2 separate regions of the Homo sapiens genome follow, and region 1 is linked to region 2. Evidence: fine-mapped expression QTL. A gene starts in region 2. The other region holds a variant in brackets. All regions are shown on one strand. Distances are between the middles of the regions. Region 1 overlaps NECTIN2 (nectin cell adhesion molecule 2). Region 2 holds the start of NECTIN2 (nectin cell adhesion molecule 2).

Region 1 (5,000 bases), 27 kb before region 2:
TCTTTCTCTATTGCGTCTGTGTTCTGCAGGCTCTGACCTTGGAGCCACCTGCTGGGTGTGTGGGCAGGGGATCAGCTTGTCAGGTGTATCTGGGGTAGAGGTTAGGGGTGTATTTCCAGTTCGGTGTCTGTCTGGGCGGGTGGAGCTGACCCTCCCCTGGGTGTGCTACTGAGGGCAGGGACTGTGGCTCATTCACCATTGTATTCCCAACCTCAGCAAGAGTGCCTAGCAAACAGGAAACACATATTTGTTGAATGAGAATCTCCCTAACGGACTTTCTGGATAATTTCGGAGGAGTTTCGGGGAGTTTCGGGAGGGTTCCTGGGAAGAAGCTCCTCCCAGGATGTCTTTGATTTTCCGTCTGAGGGTCTGTGAGTGAGGGATGACATTCCTCCGTGTGCAGCCGTTGCTGTCCTGGATTAGTTTTGCCCCCAGCGTGTCTGTGTGACGTCTTCCTCCGGGGACTTATGTGCATCCTCACGCGCCAGGCGAGCCCAGAGCGGGACAGCTGTCTCTCTGGGTTTGCTGTCTGTGACAGTGTTTCCCGTAGGGGTGTCCTATCTCCCTGGCTGTATCTGGATTCCTGAAGAGGTGTCTGTTTTCCCTCGGGTGTCCCTGCAAGTGTGTGTGCATTCTAAGATTATGACTCAGTAAGGGGGTCTGCTTCTGTCCCTCCGTGGCTAGTCTGTCTGCATGACAGGGACAGCCCCTGTCTGGGAGTTTGTCCCTACACCTTCAGTCATGTTTCTGGGGGGCCTGCACATTGCGTGTTTGCACAGGTGTGCTGCATGGACCGTCGCCCTGGCGTGTTTCTAAGAATGTCTTTTTCTGGCCAGGCGCAGTGGCTCATGCATATAATCCCAGCACTTCGTGAGGCCGAGGCGGGTGGATCACCTGAGGTCAGCAGTTCGAGACCAGCCTGACCAATATGGTGAAACCCTGTCTCTACTAAAAATACAAAACTTAGCCGGGTTTGGTGGTGAGCGCATATAGTCCCAGCTACTCAGGAGGCTGAGGCAGGATAATTGCTTGAACCCGGGAGGCGGAGGTTGCGGTGAGCTGAGATTGCGCCACTACACTTCAGCCTGGGCGACAGAGCGAGACTCCATCTCAAAAAAAAAAAAAAAGAATGTCCCTTTCCAGGTGTCATCTGGCTTCGTTCAGTCTATCTTGGCTGGTGCCACTGTCCTCCTGGGTGTGTGTCTTGGTGACAATGGGTTTGAGCGTGCAGGGTTACCATCCAGGTGAGTGTCTGGATTCTGATGCATCTCTGCAACAGAATTTCTCAGCACAGGGAGTGTCTGTGGCTGTGGATCCTGCCAGCTGTGGCTCTGACAGGAGGGGTCTCTGGCCCTATCTCCAGGACCCAGGGGTCTCTCTGTCCCAGGAAGCATGGCTCTGTTAACAGTCCCGGCCGCGCTCTAGGTGTGTGGCCCTGCAGTTGTGAGTTTGACCCAGTTTCCATCACTGGGTGATGGTCTGGCTTTGTGCTTTTCCTCTTTGGCTCCGTGCCTTGGGGCCGGATTGTGTTTCTGGGGGTGGGAGCTCTTGGTTTCTGTCTCTTTGAAGTTTGCATGCCTGACTCTAGGTGTGCGTCTTTCTCAGGAGCTGGAGCCCAGGGCAGCTTCCTCGGGTCTATTCGTGAGGACCCTACCCAGGCCTCTACTTTCTAGGAACCCCGAGCAAAGTCCTCAACCCCCCAACTCTGCTGCCTTCACCTACCCCGACACCCCAAATCCAGACCCCAGTCTGAGGCCACGAGGGGAAGGCCAACCCTCATCTCCCCTCAGCCAGGCAGGTCTGCATCCCTCCCAGGTCGGCGGCGCAGCCTCCCCCAGTGCAGCCCCAAGTCCTGAAGGGCAGAACTCCAGGGGAGCGGACCCAGGTCTCCACACACGGCCCCCAAGACCCACTCACCTCGGACAAAGATGACCTGCTCAGCGCGGCCCATGCCCACGGCATTGGTGACTGTGCAGACGAAGGTGGTATTGAACAGACTGTCCACTGCGTGGATGACCAGCTGGGAGCCCTGGGCCACTGCGGAGGTCGGGAAGGTGCCTGAGGTCCTGGAGGGGTGTGGGGTCAGGTGAGAGGGATACCAAGGTCGAGAGGGGAGCACAGGCCTCATCCCTAAAGATACACCCACCAGGAGCCAAGCTCCAGGGACCTAAGTACTCCCGGAGACCCCAAATTGCCAAAATGCAAGCTCCCTTCATCCTGGAGGACTTAGGAATTTAGGCCCAGCCCCTCCTCCCTCAGATCCAGGAGTCCAGGCCCCCAGCCCCTCCTCCCTTAGATCCAGGAGTCCAGGCCCCCAGCCCCGCCTCCCTCAGACCCAGGGTTCTGAGACCACGTGACTCACGTGCTCCAGTCATAGCCCGTGGGCTCTGGGTTGCTGCGGACGTCACAGCTCAGGGTGGCATCAGTACGGCCGAGGTACCAGTTGTCATCATAGCCGGAGATGGACACTTCAGGAGGGTCTGGGGGAAATGGGGGGACTGGATCAGCAAGGAGGAGAATCCCAGAGCGGGTGGACAAGTTAGCAGATAGACAGGAATGCTAAAGAAACGGGGCGGGTTGGCAGGAGGTACAGCAGTCAAAACTGTCTGGGGCAAATCAGTCCAGGCTGTTGTGTGCTGATGTCAGTGTAGACACTGTTCAGGGAAACCACTGTGGATAATTTTGTGGGAGTTATTGTTCAGTGCTGGCAGTGCCTAAGGGAGCCACTACAAATAATGTGTGTGTGTGTGTGTGTGTGT[T/G]TTTGAGACAGGATCTTGCTCTGTTGCCCAGGATGGAGAGCAGTGGGGTGATCCTGGTTTACTGCAAACTCCACGTCCTGGGCTCAAGCCATCCCTCCGCCTCAGCCTCCCAAATGGCTGGGATTACAGGCATGTACCACCACGTCCAGCTAATTTTGGTATTTTTAGTACAGACAGGGTTTCACCATGTTGCCCAGGCTAGTCCCGAACTCCTGACCTCAAGTGATCTGCCCGCCTTGGCCTCCCAAAGTGCTGGGATTGCAGGTGTGAGCCACCGCACCCGGCCTGTGTGTGTGTTTTTGGCATGGAGGGAGGATGTCAAAACAGGGTTTGGGCAACCAGTGTAGGTCCCGGGAGGAAAGTGGCACAGACGAGGCTCAGGGGAGCTGTTGCACTTATGGGCGCACGTGATGCATGTTGCCTGGGGGAGCTGGTGTAGACTTGGCTTAGGGAATCTGTGTAAGTGGAGGCATTGCCTGGGGAGCTAGTGTAGACAACATTGAGTTGGGATATGTGGTCATTTTGGACAGTGGTGGAAGAGGTGGTTAAGCCAGTATTTGAGGGATTCTGTGTGAAGAGTGCCAGGGTGGCCTCTCTGGGTAACATTACGAGGTGTGAGTATAGGCAGTTTCTGGAAGAGCTAGCAAAAAACCCAGTGGGAGGGGTCAGGATCAACAGGGCCCGGGGGGTGGAGCCTGTAATGTAATATATAATATAATGTAATTATATTATATTAAATAACAATAATAAATAATGACAAAATATATGTTAATATATAATATATAATTTATATATTTTATATAATATATAATATATAAAAATATAATAATAAATAATAAATAATAAATACAATGTAAATAATATCAAGGATCAGGGGTCGGTGTAGAGACTCTGGGAGACTCAGTATAGATGGCACCTAGGGAAGTCAAGGCAGAAGTATGGGAAGGTGTGGAGACGATGTTAGGTTGGGCAGTGTAGACATGTAGACATGTGGACATGGCCCAGCATGATTGATCTAACGGTCCAGGGGCAGTGTCAACCGGGGTCCATGGGAGCCAGAAAAGACACTGTTGGGGGCAGCTCTTTGCTGGTAAACCAACTCTCTGGGGAATAAAAGAAGCCCCCATTTCTAGGGTTTGCCAATTTCCTTGGTGTAAATATTCCCCAAGGTTGATTTCAAGCTACCGAGAAGACTTCATTGGATGTGGAATTGGAAAGAAATGTATCAAACTGGCTCTTGCAAGCCCATCCCAGGTTACCACAGACTAGGCACAGCATGCAGGAACCCAGTAAAGCCAATGTAGACAATGAGGGGGAAGTATGTAGATTTGCCCATGGGAGCCAGTGTAGACAATGGCAGGAAGGTAGTGCAGAATTTGGCTTCAGGGAACCCACGTAGACAACATTCAGAGACAATGTAGACAGTGCTTTAGAGAAGCCAGTGTAGGCAGTTTTGATGGGGGAGGGGTCACCCCCGATACACTCACAGCGTACAGAGAGGGTCACAGGTATCAGGGCTGGTTCCTCGAAGCTCTCATGCTCCACTTTGCAGGTGACCGTGACACCATCTGCTCGGCCCGAGGGCACCAAGGTGAAGCGGCTGGTGACAGTGACAGTTCCGGCCAGGGTCCCTGACACCTGAGTCTCTTTGGCTTCCCAGTCCAGGGATGAGAGCCAGGAGATCCGGGCAGGTGGGCGGCCCTCTTTGGAGATGCAGAGGGCCACTGTCGTAGGGTCCTGGCTGAACGTGACCTTCTGGGCCTCAGCTTGGTTCTTGGGCTTGGCTGGGGAGAGGAGGAGAGGGGGTGCGTCACTCCTCACCGGCAGTCATTCAACAAACACTCAGCAGAGGAGCAGGGTGGTTAGGCCCTAACTGCCGGGGTTCCAATCCCAGCTCTGCTGCTTATCAGCGGCCTGGCTTGGGATAAGTGGTTTTGCAACTCTGTAGCTGTTTCTTGTTTTGTAAAATGGGGATAATGAAAGTACCCACCCCTAGGATTGCTGTGTGAATTAAATAATACATTGATAGGTAAATGGCTTAGGGTAATGTCTGGCCTGCACTGCCCTATCCAAGTGTTGCCCATTTTATTTTACTTTATTTATTTTTTAGAGACAGGGGCCCGCTCTGTCACCTGGTCTCGAGTGCAGTGGTGTGATCATAGCTTGCTGCAGCCTGCACCTCCTAGGCTCAAGTGATCCTCCCGCCTTGGCCTCCAGAGTAGCTAGGACCATAGGCATGCA
Region 2 (5,462 bases):
GTCTCTGACCCCATTCCTAAATCTGTGTCTGACCGCTTCCCTCTATTGGCCTCTGTACCCATCCTTGTAGCTCCAGCCTCTCTATATACCCACCCCCCAACTTCTCCTCTGCCCAGTCCCCCTTCCCTAATGAGAGGAGACAGCCAGGCTGCCGTCCCTCTGCTCCCCTCCCCCTCCACTACGTGGGGCTGCCTGGCGGACATGGACACACGGATGGGCAGGGAAGAAAGCTGGGGGAGGGGAGCCGGCCCAGCTGGGGGCCCAGGTGGTGCACCCGCATTCCCCGAGGAGGCCAAGCGGGGGAGGCAGTGGAGCTAGACAGGTATACAGAGAAAGACGGAGAGGAGAGAGAGAGATGGGGAGAGGAGAAGAGAGAAAGAGCTTGGAGAGGGATGGAGAGAGAAAGGGTGAGAAACGAAGAGAGATGAAGAGGGGGAAAGAAAGTGAGGGAAGGAGGAAAACAGGGAGGGGGAGGGGAGAGAGAGAGAGAGGGAGAGCGAGCACATGCCAGCCGGCCAGCCAGTGGACAGCAGAGGCGAAGGATTGGGGTGGGGGTGGTCAAGAAAGGGGCCGACAGCTCCTTCTCCAGGGGCTAAGAGGTTTCACAGGGAATCAGTGGGGCCTGGGAGCCTTCCGGATGGTCCGCAGGGAAAGGATTGTTATCTCAGTTTTTTTACGAGGGAGGAAATGGAAACTCAGAGGCACTTCCTGGAGCCCACCCGGTGCGGGGCTCTGAAGAACCGGAGCCCGGCTTCCCCGGGACCTGCTGTGAGACCTTGAGAAGGCTGCTTGCCTTTGCTGAGCCTGTTTCCTCATCTCTAAGATGGAAACAGAAACAGGACCTGTTTCCCAGGGCAAGCTGGAGCCTTCGGTGAGATCATGCACCAAGCTAACAGTAGGCTCAGGGTCTGGTGGGTTCGGAGAATTCACCCAGAGGTGCCAGTTCTGATCTCATCTGCCTATTTCTGCCTGAAGGGAGAGGCAGGGGATGGAAGCGGAGTTCCCAGCTCTGGGTCAAAGCTGGGAGGCCAGTGAGAGCCATCCTGGGGGAAATGAGGCCAGAGAGGTGGCCGGGGTTCCCCCAAGATCCCCCTGAGCTCTCTTCTGCGCAAACCCTCGGGAAACTCTAGCATCCCAGAGTTTGTCGCTGGGAATACACAACCGGGTCACCTGCAAGGGGCGGGGCCAGCGCCTCTTTCAAGGGTTCCCTCCCAGCCCCTCCCTCCCCAGGGGGGCCGCTCTCCTCCCCTAGTGGGGTGGATGGAAGGACGCCAGGGGGTCCAAGGCATAGCAATGGGAGGGACGGGGGATAAGGGCGGCGGCTCCACTCGTCCACCTCCTGCTATGGCTCTGAGGACAAAGGCGCTACCAGAGGATAGATAAGGTCCCGAAACCGGGGAGTCCGGAACCCGGAGCCAGGAGCGCCCGCCCCGCCCCTCCCTGGCTCGGCGAGAGTGAAACCAGGAAAACTTCCCCGGCGACGTCTCCGTCGCCCCCGACCATTCATAGGGAAAGGGAGGAGTCTCCCAGCCTCTGGGACTCGGGGCCTCCCGTTCTATCTGGGACTCAGGCGACTGAGACTCCAGCCTCAAGACAGAGCCTTCGACCCTTGATCATATCTGGAGCCCAAGAGACGGGGCCCGCTGCTCGCACTTCTGTTTGGATCTCAGAAGACGTTCCTCTGCCTACAATTAAGTCTGAAGCCCACGAGATCGAGTCTCCTGTCCCCCGGTTCTGCCGGGAACCCTGAAAACGAAGCCCCCTGCCCACAATTAAATCCAGAAGCTACAAGTTTGATCCTCTCTCGCCCCCAGTTTTACCTAGATCCCAGTTAGACTTAGCGCCTAGCCTCCATTCTACCAGGGACCCTGAAGACGGAGCCCCCGGCCCCTAATTTTTCTGGAGTCCACGGAGTCAGAACCCCCAACTCCCTGAGGTTCGGGGTTGGAGCTCCGAGCTCAGGCCCTTCCCCCTAAGTCGCCAGAACTCTTATCCTTAGCCCTCCAAGGGACCCGAATCAGGTCCGCTTGTCCTCAGTTCTCTCCGGGCCTCAGACGCCCAAGCCGGGAAGAAGGAAAAATAGGGGAGGGAGGTGGTCTCGCCTCTTCCTCGAGACCTTACTGCGGTAGGTGGGGGGAACATTCCCCACATTCCTGAGAGGGGTAGAGGAGACAGAGACCCAGATCCGGGTGAACTACTCGGCGCGGGGTGGGGAGGGGGCACCAGGCCTTCCTGGGATTTAACCCTTTCGGCGCGGGAATCCGAGAAATGGGGAGGGGGACAGACAAGCAGGCGTAGGATGGGCAATTGGATTAAGAAGGATGGGGGTGGTGGTGAGAGAGATGCAGAAAGGAGGGGTCAGAGTCTCCTCGAGAGAATCGGACGTGTAGGGGGTCGGAGTCTGTGGGGCCAGCCAGGAAGGGGGCACGCGAGAGGGGGCTCGGGGAGCCGGGGGTGGGCGGGGAAGGTGCTCGGCTTCCCCAGCTCGGAAGGTAAGGTTGGAGGGGGTCCGCGCGAGGGCAGGGGGCCGTCCGCTCGTCTCACCGGTTTCCAGGAGCAGCAGCAGCAGCAGCGGCCACAGCAGCGGCGTCGGCGGCGATCTCGACGGCAGGAGGGCAGCGGCCCGGGCCATGGAGGGCCCGGGAGGGGACTGGGCCCGGCCGGAGGCCCGCGGGCCACTCTGTGGGGGCCGATCGGCTGGGCGGTTTAGTAGGTGCCTGTGGGGCTCCGGCTCCGGCTCCGGGCCGGTTCCCGCTGCGCTCTAGCCTCCCTGTTCTGCTCTCCCGGCCCAGCTCTCCCCGCCCGGCTCGGCACCCCCGGCCTCTCGCTCAGCTCCGGCGGTTCGAACCCGCTGACGTCACAGGATCCACCCGCTGCTCCCCCGAGTCAAGCCGACCCTGGCTCCGGCCCCGCCCCCTCCTGGCGTTCTGACCCCGCCCCCCGGATTCCACCCCTGTTCCTCCCCGGGATTCCATTCTCGCTCCTCCCCAGGATTCTAAGGTCGCCCCTGCCAAAGAATTCTGTCTCCTTCGCTCCCGGCGTTAAACCACGCCCCCTAAGGTCTAGCCACGCCCCCTCTGCTCCCGAGTAGTTCCCACGCCCCGCCCCCTGCCTACCGGCCGCCTCGCCAAGGTCTTGCCACGCCCCTTTCGGCCCTTCCGGCCGACTCCGCCCCCACCAGCCCCGCCTCCACCAGCCCCGCCCCTCGCCCTAGCCGGAGTTCTCTCGGTCTCTTAGCTCAGTCCGTCCTGGCCTCTGTCCCACCCACAGTTCGAATCCTGCCCTTTCCTGCCTGCCCGGGTCCTCTCATCACAGTTGCCTGAGGCACGTGGGGCTTTACGGTTCTGCCCCCAGCACGTCCCGGTTGTGCGACCTCCCCGCAGGTCGAGCCCATCGCCCTGAGCCTGTTTCTCGTACCCTCGTGCGTTTCTAATCTCTGCCCCGAACTCTAGGTGTCGCTGCACTCGTTTCTTTCTGGATTTCTCTGTCTCTCTTACGTGTCTTTGTGTCTCTCTCACTCTCTTTGGGTCTTCCTCTCTGTCCCTGTATTTCTGCCTCTCTGGGTCTTTCCGTCCTCATGCTTCGGTGTCGCTCTGTTTCTGGTCTTCCTTTGTCAGTCACTGTTTCTTTATTTCAATAAAAGAGACGGGGCGGGGGGGCGGCGGGGTCTCACTATGTTGCTGAGGCTGGCCTCAAGCGATCCTCCCGGCTCGGCCTCCCAAGATGCTGGGATTACAGGCGTGAGCCACCAAGCCCGGCCTGTCTGTCACTGTTTCTGGGTCACTTGGTCCCCATGTCTCTTTCCATCCTTTGACTCTGTCTCTGTGTCTCTCTGTCTCTATCTGTGTGCCTCTCTGTCTCTGTCTCTATTTCTGTGTATCTCTGTCTCTATCGGCCTGTCTCTGTGCCTCTCTGTCTCTGTGTGCCTCTCTGTCTCTGTGTTTCTCTGTCTCTATCTCTGTGCCTCTCTATCTCTGTGCTTCTCTGTCTCTGTCTCTCCGTGTGTCTCTCTCTGTCTCTATCTGTGTCTCTCTGTCCCTGTCTCTTTCTCTGTGTCTCCCTCTCGGCGTCTCTTGTCTCTGCGTGCGAGTCTCTCTCGCTGTCTCTCTGTCCCTGCTCTGTTCTCTGCTTCCTTCCCTCCCTACCTCCCTGCGCGCCCTGGTCCTCCCCTCCCAACACCTGCTCCGCGCCGCCTTCTCACCGCAGCCACCCGCCAGGGGGCAGCAGAGACCGGCCCCCGCGCTGCGCTGGCCCGGCCGGGCTGGGTGGGGCTGGGCTCCAGTCCGGCCTCCGGACCTGGTCACTCCCCGCGTCCTTGTCCCACTTCCCCTATCTCCCCAGCCTCCTCGCGTCTTTGTGTCTCTCGCTCAGACTCGGGCCCTTTGTCTCTCCCAGCGGCTCGCCCTCCTCCCTACCCCCACCTACCTCTTCGCATTCTTTGGGCTGCCCAGGGGGAGCTGGTGAGGCCGCGCCGGGGGGCGGGATGAGGGCGCGAAGCGGGAGGCCGGGGGAGGGGGTGCCACGGAGCGCCAGTCTGGGCCCAAGTTCGTCCAGGGCCAGGAGGCGCGGAGCTGCTCAGCTGGGGGCAGGTGCTTGGGGGCTTCTTGCCCTAGCAAGAGGACCACCTAGGCTCGCCCTCCCTTCCACCTGCCACACACCTGGGCTTTCCTCCCCAGAAGGACTAGGTTTCAAGTAGCAGAGGCTGTTATCCCTCCGCATTCGAGTCTTAGTTATGATCCTTTTTTTTTTTTTTTCTTTGAGACGGAGTCTCGCTCTGTCGCCCAGGCTGGAGGGCAGTGGCGCGATCTCGGCTCACTGCAACCTCTGCCTCCTGGGTTCAAGCGATTCTCCTGAGTCAGCCTCCTGAGTAGCTGGGATTACAGGCGCGCGCCACCACGCCCGGCTAATTTTTGTATTTTTAGTAGAGACGGGGTTTCACCATGTTGGTCAGGCTGGTCTCAAACTCCTGACCTCCTGATCCACCCGCTTCAGCCTCCCAAAATGCTGGGATTGCAGGTGTGAGCCACCGCGCCCGGCACTTACGATACTGTTAATACATGTAGTCAGCACTTACCGTGTGCCAGGCACTGATCTAAGTGCACTGCGAATATTATCTCATGTAAGCCATGCAGCGCCATGGGCGATAGGGAAACTGAAGCAGAGAGATGAAGTGACTCACTGAGTTACAAAATGGCAGAGCCAGGGCGGGGCGCCCTGGCTGACGCCTGTAATCCCAGCACTTTGGGAGGCTGAGGCGGGTGGATCACTTGAGTTCAGGAGTTCGAGACCAGCCTGGCCGACATGGTGAAACCCTGTCTCTACTTGGGAGGCTGAGGCAGGAGAATCGCTTGAACCCGGGAGTTGGAGGTTGCAGTGAGCCGAGATCGCACCACTGCACTCCAGCCTGGGCAACAGAGTGAGACTCAGTCTGAAAAACATAAAATAAAATAGAAATTAAAAAT

The links.
Region 1: its variant is fine-mapped to the expression of NECTIN2 in whole blood (TOPMed, PIP above 0.99).

Annotation. Positions count from the first base shown.
Region 1 is chr19:44,871,396-44,876,395 of GRCh38, reverse strand. It overlaps NECTIN2 (nectin cell adhesion molecule 2), which reads right to left. Exons shown (of 9, transcript NM_001042724.2): 3 at 4,247-4,543; 4 at 2,363-2,480; 5 at 1,918-2,066. Among named protein-coding and RNA genes, the nearest start is that of TOMM40, 17 kb to the left of the region's middle. The variant T/G (reference allele first, on the strand shown) is at 2,760.
Region 2 is chr19:44,843,696-44,849,157 of GRCh38, reverse strand. It overlaps NECTIN2 (nectin cell adhesion molecule 2), which reads right to left and starts at 2,861. Exons shown (of 9, transcript NM_001042724.2): 1 at 2,545-2,861. The coding sequence starts at 2,632. RefSeq lists an enhancer at 169-1,151 and silencers at 2,791-2,890, 3,021-3,100, 3,181-3,230, 4,098-4,497.